2 linked regions of the Homo sapiens genome follow. The protein of the gene in region 2 purifies or fractionates together with the protein of the main gene of each other region. This does not show direct contact. Each region holds a gene or a part of one and is shown on either strand. Other genes may lie near its edges.

Region 1 (3,652 bases), on a different chromosome or scaffold from region 2:
CAATCTTGCCTCCATGAGGGGGAGAAACTACCTGAGAATAAGACAGAAGAGGAGCTGAGAAGGCAAATGCTTTCTGTCATTTTTCAGCACCTGGATCCAGCCATATCTGAAGTCAGCCATGTAAACTGACTTCAGCTCAGTGAACCAACAAATCCCCTCTTGCTGGTAGAGCCAGTGTGAGTCAGGTTTTTATTACTTGCAGTCTGGGTGCCAGTGGCCAGATGACATCCACCCCCAGCCCAACGGTAGACCCTGAGATCCACCCAGAAGCTAGTCACACAGGCATGGGAGTGGCAGTTCCAGAGTCACCTTCTCAGCACAAGACTTCGCTTCCCCTTCCTGGAGAAAGAGGAGATGCCCTGACCCCAAGGGAGGTGAGGAGCTAAGCCAGAAGAGGGAAGAAGACAGACGCTTGGTATTCTCACAATGTCAGCCTTGTTCATTGATTCACCTGGGGCAGAAGGGGTGTTGTCAGCTCCCTACTCCAAGGCCACAAGGCCAAGGTGAGAGAAGGGGGCCTTTGATAGAGGAGCCTGAGGCCGGGAAGGACAGAGAACTGCCCTGTCATAGCTGCATGTTGGCCTCGGCTGGCAACAAGATTATTTTTTGCAGTGAAAAAGTTCTTTTTAAAAGTTTTTTTGGGCCAGGCGCGGTGGCTCATGGCTGTAATCCCAGCACTTTGGGAGGCCGATGTGGGCGGATCACTTGAGGTCAGGAGTTGAAGACCACCCTGGCCAACATGGTGAAACCCCATCTCTACTAAAAAATACAAAAATTAGCAGGGTGTGGTGGTTGGCGCCTGTAGTCCCAGCTACTCGGGAGGCTGAGGCACGAGAATCGCTTGAGCCTGGGAGGCAAAGGTTGCAGTGAGCCGAGATTGGGCCACTGCACTTCAGCCTGGGCGACAGAGTGAGACTCTGTCTCAAAAATTAAAAAAAAAAAAAAGTTTTTACAGACAGGGTCTCCCTCTGTCACCCAGGCTGGAATGCAGTGGTGCGATCATGGCTCACTATATCCTCTACCTCCCCGGCTTAAGTGATCCACCTGCCTCAGCCTACTGACACATGCCAGCAGTCCCTCCTAATTAAAAAAAAAAAAAAAAAAACATTAGCCGGACGGGGTAGCTCACGCCTGTAATCTCAGCACTTTGGGAGGCTGAGGTGGGCGGATCACAAGATCAGGAGATTGAGATCATCCTGGCTAACACTGTGAAACCCCTTCTTACTAAAAAAAAAAATACAAAAAATTAGCTGGGCATGGTGGCACATGCCTGTAGTCCCAGCTACTCGGGAGGCTCTGAGGCAGGAGAATCGCTTGAACCCGGGAGGCAGAGGTTGCAGTGAGCCGAGATCGTGCCACTGTACTCCAGCCTGGGCGACAGACCGAGACTGTCTCAAAAAAAAAAAAAAAATTGGGGGGAGCTGGGCATGGTGGCTCACGCCTGTAATTCCAGCACTTTGTGAGGCCGAGGCAGGCAGAACACCTGAGGTCAGGAGTTTGAGAGCAGCCTGGCCAGCATTGTGAAACCCCATCTCTACTAAAACTCAAAAAGTAGCTGGGCATGGTGGTGCACGCCTGTAATCCCAGCTACTCGGGAGGCTGAGGCAGGAGAATTGCTTGAACCTCGGAGGTAGAGGTTGCAGTGAGACTCGAGAGGCTGAGGCAGGAGAATTGCTTGAACCTCGGAGGTAGAGATTGCAGTGAGCTGGGGTCACACCACTGCACTCCAGCCTGGGCGACAGAGTGAGTCCCTGTCTTTACAAAAAATAGACATATTAGCCAGGCGTGGTGGTGCACGGCTGTAGTCCCAGCTGCTAGGGAGACTGAGAAGGGAAGATTGATTGAGCCCAGGAAGTGGAGGCTGCAGTGAGCTGTGATTGCGCCACTGCACTCTAGCCTGGTCAACAAAGCAAGACCCCTATCTAAAAAAAAAATAAAATAATTTTTTTTTTTTTTTGTAGAGACAGGGTCTCACTATGTTGCCCAGGCTGATCTTGAACTCCTTGGCTCAAGGAATCGTCCTGCCTCAGCCTCCCAAAGTCCTGGGCTTATAGGCGTGGGTCATTGCACCCGGCCAGGAAAGTTCTGACTGATGGTAACACAGAAGGCCACCAAAGGCTCCTCCCTCCTGCTTCTTGACCCATAACCCATGTCCAGCCTCCTCATTCAGAGATCAGAAAAGGACATCAGCCCTGCCAGGGTTCCCTCACTCAGGTGAAAAGATCGAATCCTTGCTGTGGTCTACAAGACCCCCCACGATCCTCCTGGTGAACTCCCTGCCCCGCCTCTCCCCATTTTCCTCCTTGTTCACCATCCTTCAGCCATACTGGGCTCCTCAGACACACCAGGGAAGCTTCAGCCTCGGGGCCTTTGCACATCCTGTATCCTCTGCCTGCAACACATGCCCTGGATATCCACATGATTGGCTCCTCCTCATCATTCAGTTTTTTGCTCAAATGCCACCTCCTCAGAGAGGGCTTCCCTGATTGCCCTACTCTACTTCAGAGTCCAGAGGGCTGACCATTAGAACATGGGGCCAGTCGCCCTACTCTACTTCAAATAATGACATCCTCACCCAGGTGGATTTCATCTGGTGCCCTGCTGGCAGGTTGAATATATATTGGATTTCATGTTTATCATCTGTCCTCATCCGCCTGGAATGTCAGCCTGGAATGTCTTTGGGCAAGCCCAAAGACAGTTCTTGGTCCATAGTAAGTGCTCAGAAACCTTATGTGGCTCATGCTGGGCATGGTGACTCACATCTGTAATCCCAGCTACTCTGGAGGCCGAGGTGGGAGGATCACTTGAGGTTAAGAGTTCAAGACTAGCCTGGTCAATATCTTTTTTTTTTTTGAGACAGAATCTTGCTCTGTCACCCATGCTGGAGTGCAATGGCACTGTCTTGGCTCACTGTAACCTCCGCCTCCCAGATTCAAATGATCCTCCTGCCTCAGCCTCCTGAGTAGCTGGGATTACACACGCATGCCACCACACCCAGCTATTTTTTGTATTTTTTTTTTTTTTTTTTTTGAGACGGAGTCTCGCTCTGTCGCCCAGGCCGGACTGCGGACTGCAGTGGCGCAATCTCGGCTCACTGCAAGCTCTGCTTCCCGGGTTCACGCCATTCTCCTGCCTCAGCCTCCCGAGTAGCTGGGACTACAGGTGCCCGCCACCGCGCCCGGCTAATTTTTTGTATTTTTAGTAGAGACGGGGTTTCACCTTGTTAGCCAGGATGGTCTCAATCTCCTGACCTCATGATCCACCCGCCTCGGCCTCCCAAAGTGCTGGGATTACAGGCGTGAGCCACCACGCCCAGCCTATTTTTTGTATTTTTAATAGACATAGGGTTTCACCATGTTGGCCAGGCTGGTCTTAAGCTCTGACCTCAGGTGATCCACCTACCTCAGCTTCCCAAAGTACTGGGATTACAAGCATGAGCTACCATGTCCGGCCCTGGTCAACATTTTAGACCCTCATCTCTAAAATAATTTTTTAAATTAGCTGGGCATGGTGGTGCACACCTGTAGTCTCAGCTACTTAGGAGGCTGAGGTGGGAGGATCACTTGAGGATAGGAATTGGAGGATGAAGTGAGCTATGATTGTGCCATTGCCCTCTAGTCTGCACGACCTTGTCTCATTTAAAAAAAAAAAA
Region 2 (3,652 bases):
CGCTCCCGGCCTTGTAACCTGACTTACAGACCTCCTAAGATAAGTGACTCCTTGTGAAACCAGGATGAAATATGAAAGATCGAAAGCTACTTTTGCCTTAATTTTTGCAGCAGCAATAGAATAAAAAAGAAAATGCAAGGAAAAAAATTAAAAAATAAAGCGACCTTTGCCAAGAGCAAGTTAGAAATTCAAGACATGAAGCCAGGGTGGCACTTTTGGCTGTTTTTGTAGATTTCATCCAGTCTCTCCCCCATGAAGGCAGAACAGGGGAAGAGGCACAGTTTTCCAGAATTCCATGTTGGGATATGGGGGAAGAAGAGGAAGAAAATTCCCATATTCTGAAATGTATAGATTTGGAAGCTTTTAGGTACCAATTCATTCAGACCTAAATTTACTAAATAAGCCAATTGAGGGGGAAAAAAAAGGAAAAAAACTTCTAAAAAGAGAGAGTACAGTGTCTGTGGCAGTGAAGCCAACTAGATACCAGGAATAAAGTTTGGAGTATAGATCTCTATCATGGAATCACTCAGGGATGTTAAGCCAGCTCATCAAAGGCCACGTAGTAAGGTAAAGGTGGAGCCCGCGTCTCCTAATTTACTGTCCCATTTCCTTCCGACACCACACTATCTTGAATTTAGGGAAAAGTTAATTTCCAAGTGTTTGTGCAATGGGCCAGAACTTCTCCCTGAAGGAACATACTCCCAGTTCTTGAGGTTCATGGGTTTGCCTCACCAGTGCGCTCCCCAGTGCTGAGTAAGGCTCACTGTGCTCCCTGGCTGGTCATTCCCCACCCTGCTGAGACAGCCTGACACAAACATCCTGGTGAAGCCACAAGGAGACCACCTTGATTTTCACGCAGGGAGGTCTTGGTTTCACAGCTTGGTTCAAGTTTCCTGAGGTGTCAAAACTATCTGATACCTCTTCGGAGCCAAAACAAAGCAAGCAGCTCCCGGAGGCAGATAAACTTAGGCTCCAACTCCTTCTAGAAGCTGAGTGAAACCACTCCTTCCTTGTCCAACTGGAAAAACCTAAGAAATAGGCCTCTCCAGGTCCCTTCTGGTCTTTGAGATAATTCTCTAGGAGAGCTGTGGCCATGCCTGCATTAAAACAAATGCGACTGGCCAGGAATGCAGTGTAGAATTGAAACATCAGGGCTGAGTGATTCATTCCTCTTTACCCAGTTTTTGTTTTGTTTTGTTTATCTGTCTTCCCTCTTGGGGAAGCCTCCACCCAGTTCTCCCATCCAGGCCAGTGGGTTCTGAACCCCCTCCTTCCCTCCTTCAGCCATCCCACTTGCCCTGCTTGGGCCTTTTCAGCAGTGTGTGTCACATCATCATCAGATGGAACCAGAAGCAGCCAGGAGTGCTTTTTGGCACTTCCAGCTCAGCCAGTACCGTAGAGGATCCAGGGTTACTATCCATGGTGAAAAGAACTTTCTCTAGAATTGGTATTAATGAGGTTAAGTAACTTAATTTCCACCAACAACTTATCCAGACATTTAAAAAGGCAATAGAGATAAACAGCTTAGTAACAACAGATTGGCCTTCAAATTTCAGAGTATTGTTTTCTCCCTAACTGAGCTGTCTGCTTGACTGGTTAGTCTAATAAATGCACGGAGAAGGTGCACACACAACACAGTACTTTTCACTATTTAACACCATGATCATGTGGAATACATTAGAAAGGAAATAGGTCAAAAACCATCATGTGAACCGTCTAATTTGATGTTTGGGCTAAGGCTAAAATCTTCACAGGGAGGTTCTAAAGTGCTGAAATGCAGAACATTCAGGCTGACTGGTTCACCCACACCAGAGAGAGAAACTCAAGTGGGGCTGGGAGGGCAGGGGGGCCCAGAAGTGACCCAGGAATAACCTGCCCTTGTGTTCATTTCCAGAGACCAAAAAAAAAAAAATTTTTTTTTTTTTTTTTTTTTTTTGAGGCAGAGTCTTGCTCTGTCGCCCAGGCTGGAGTGCAGTGGTGCGATCTTGGCTCACTGCCACTTCTGCCTCCTGGGTTCACGTGATTCTTCTGCCTCAGCCTCCCGAGTAGCTGGGACTACAGGAGCCCGCCACCACGCCCAGCTAATTTTTGTATTTTTAGTAGAGATGGGGTTTCACCATCTTGGCCAGGCGGGTCTCGAACTCCTGACCTTGTGATCCGCACACCTTGGCCTCCCAAAGTGCTGGGATTACAGGCATGAACCACCACGCCCAGCTCAGAGACCAAAATTAAAGAATCTCAAGTAATTAACTACTGTAGCCAGGTTTACAATATAGTACCAGAGTCTCAGGGATGGAAGGAATTCATCATACAAGATCCTGGTCACCTTAACCTGGCCTCACAAAAGCCATCTTTTCAAAATTGAACCATCACTATAAAAAGAAAATTGGTGTCAGTGAGTCCCAGGAATACACATAATAGTTTCTTTAAAGGCAGGGCTAATTGGTGACACATCTCTCTTGGAAAGACACATGTACCACAAACAAAAACAGGATCCAACCACTTGTATCTAGATAGTTATCTTTCTAGGCAGAAAATCTAACATTCAGTAACTAAACCAAATCCCAGAGCCTCAGCAGCCAAAATGGCCCTAGCTGACATTTCATCCAGCCTCATTTTATAGAGGAGAAAGTAGAGGCCCATATCTTGTCCATAGTTGTACACCTGGGATCCAGGCCAGAATTCTTATAGCTACACGGGCCTGGGATCCAGCATTTTAGGTTGAGTAAAATCATTTCCTGCTAGGTCCCTGATTCTATTGAGAACCAGGGCTAAGGCTTTATGGATTTGGGAAAACTTAAGTTTCTATTGCAAACTTCAACCAGTGGGTCCCAGAGGTGCTTTGAAGTCTCCGGCTTCCACATTTGACCACAAAGTGCTGCTTATGTCCTGATGCTTACATGATTCAGTTAAGGTGCTTTCCAAACCCGGTGACAACAGCTGGGGCCTTCATCTCCAGTAAGTTTCCTGATGAGCAGCAGAGGTCTATACTTAGGGTTCCTGTGAAAAACACAAACTCCCAGTCTCACATTTGGTCACACTGAAGGTTTGGCCAAATTATTTCATACAAGTAGTTCTCACTGGCCAAACAGGTGGTTTTTCTCCTGGAAAAGTGGGATCAAAGTGACTTTGGTCCTGATTGTTCTTGCTTCCAAGATGTGTAAGAACCAGATCACCACCCCCCAACCAAAAAGCAAAACAAAATAGATATAGCCTCCAGATTAATAGTTGCAGACTGGGATTCCAAATGTTTAAGAATCAGTGGGGACATTTTCCATGTCTTCCATGGAGTAATTAAAGTAACCAAAGGCTTACCCCAAAATGGGCTCATGCTCATATCTCAGGCTGTTCCTCCATCCTGCAGTTTAATTACAAGGAGCAAGACTGAATCCATGGACCCTTAAATTCTCCTTGTGCCTCTCCAAAGAAAAGAAGGAAAAGAATTAAAGATGGTGACCCTGGGGGACGGGCTAGTAGCAGGAGTACAGCTGTGACTTCACAGCTCGCAAGGAGTCGTCACACTGTGCATCTGAGGTCAGGCCCTCGGGCAGCAGCGTCTGGCCCAGGATGCTGTCACAGGCAGGAACAGGTTGGCAGAACTCTTTCACAAAATCGTCTTCTGAAGCCAGCAGTACCGCGTTCCAGGTGGCAG

Evidence for each region. Proteins that work in one complex are often made in the same cells at the same time.
Region 1: the proteins of TTPAL (region 2) and C19orf38 purify together in Homo sapiens (affinity purification with mass spectrometry; one large-scale study listed by BioGRID and IntAct). This does not show direct contact.

Annotation. Positions count from the first base shown.
Region 1 is NC_000019.10:10,851,353-10,855,004, reverse strand, and holds part of C19orf38 (protein HIDE1 precursor), read right to left. Parts: intron 1-3,652.
Region 2 is NC_000020.11:44,489,360-44,493,011, reverse strand, and holds part of TTPAL (alpha-tocopherol transfer protein-like), read right to left. Parts: coding exon 3,471-3,652; 3' UTR 1-3,470. UniProt on the Homo sapiens protein: May act as a protein that binds a hydrophobic ligand.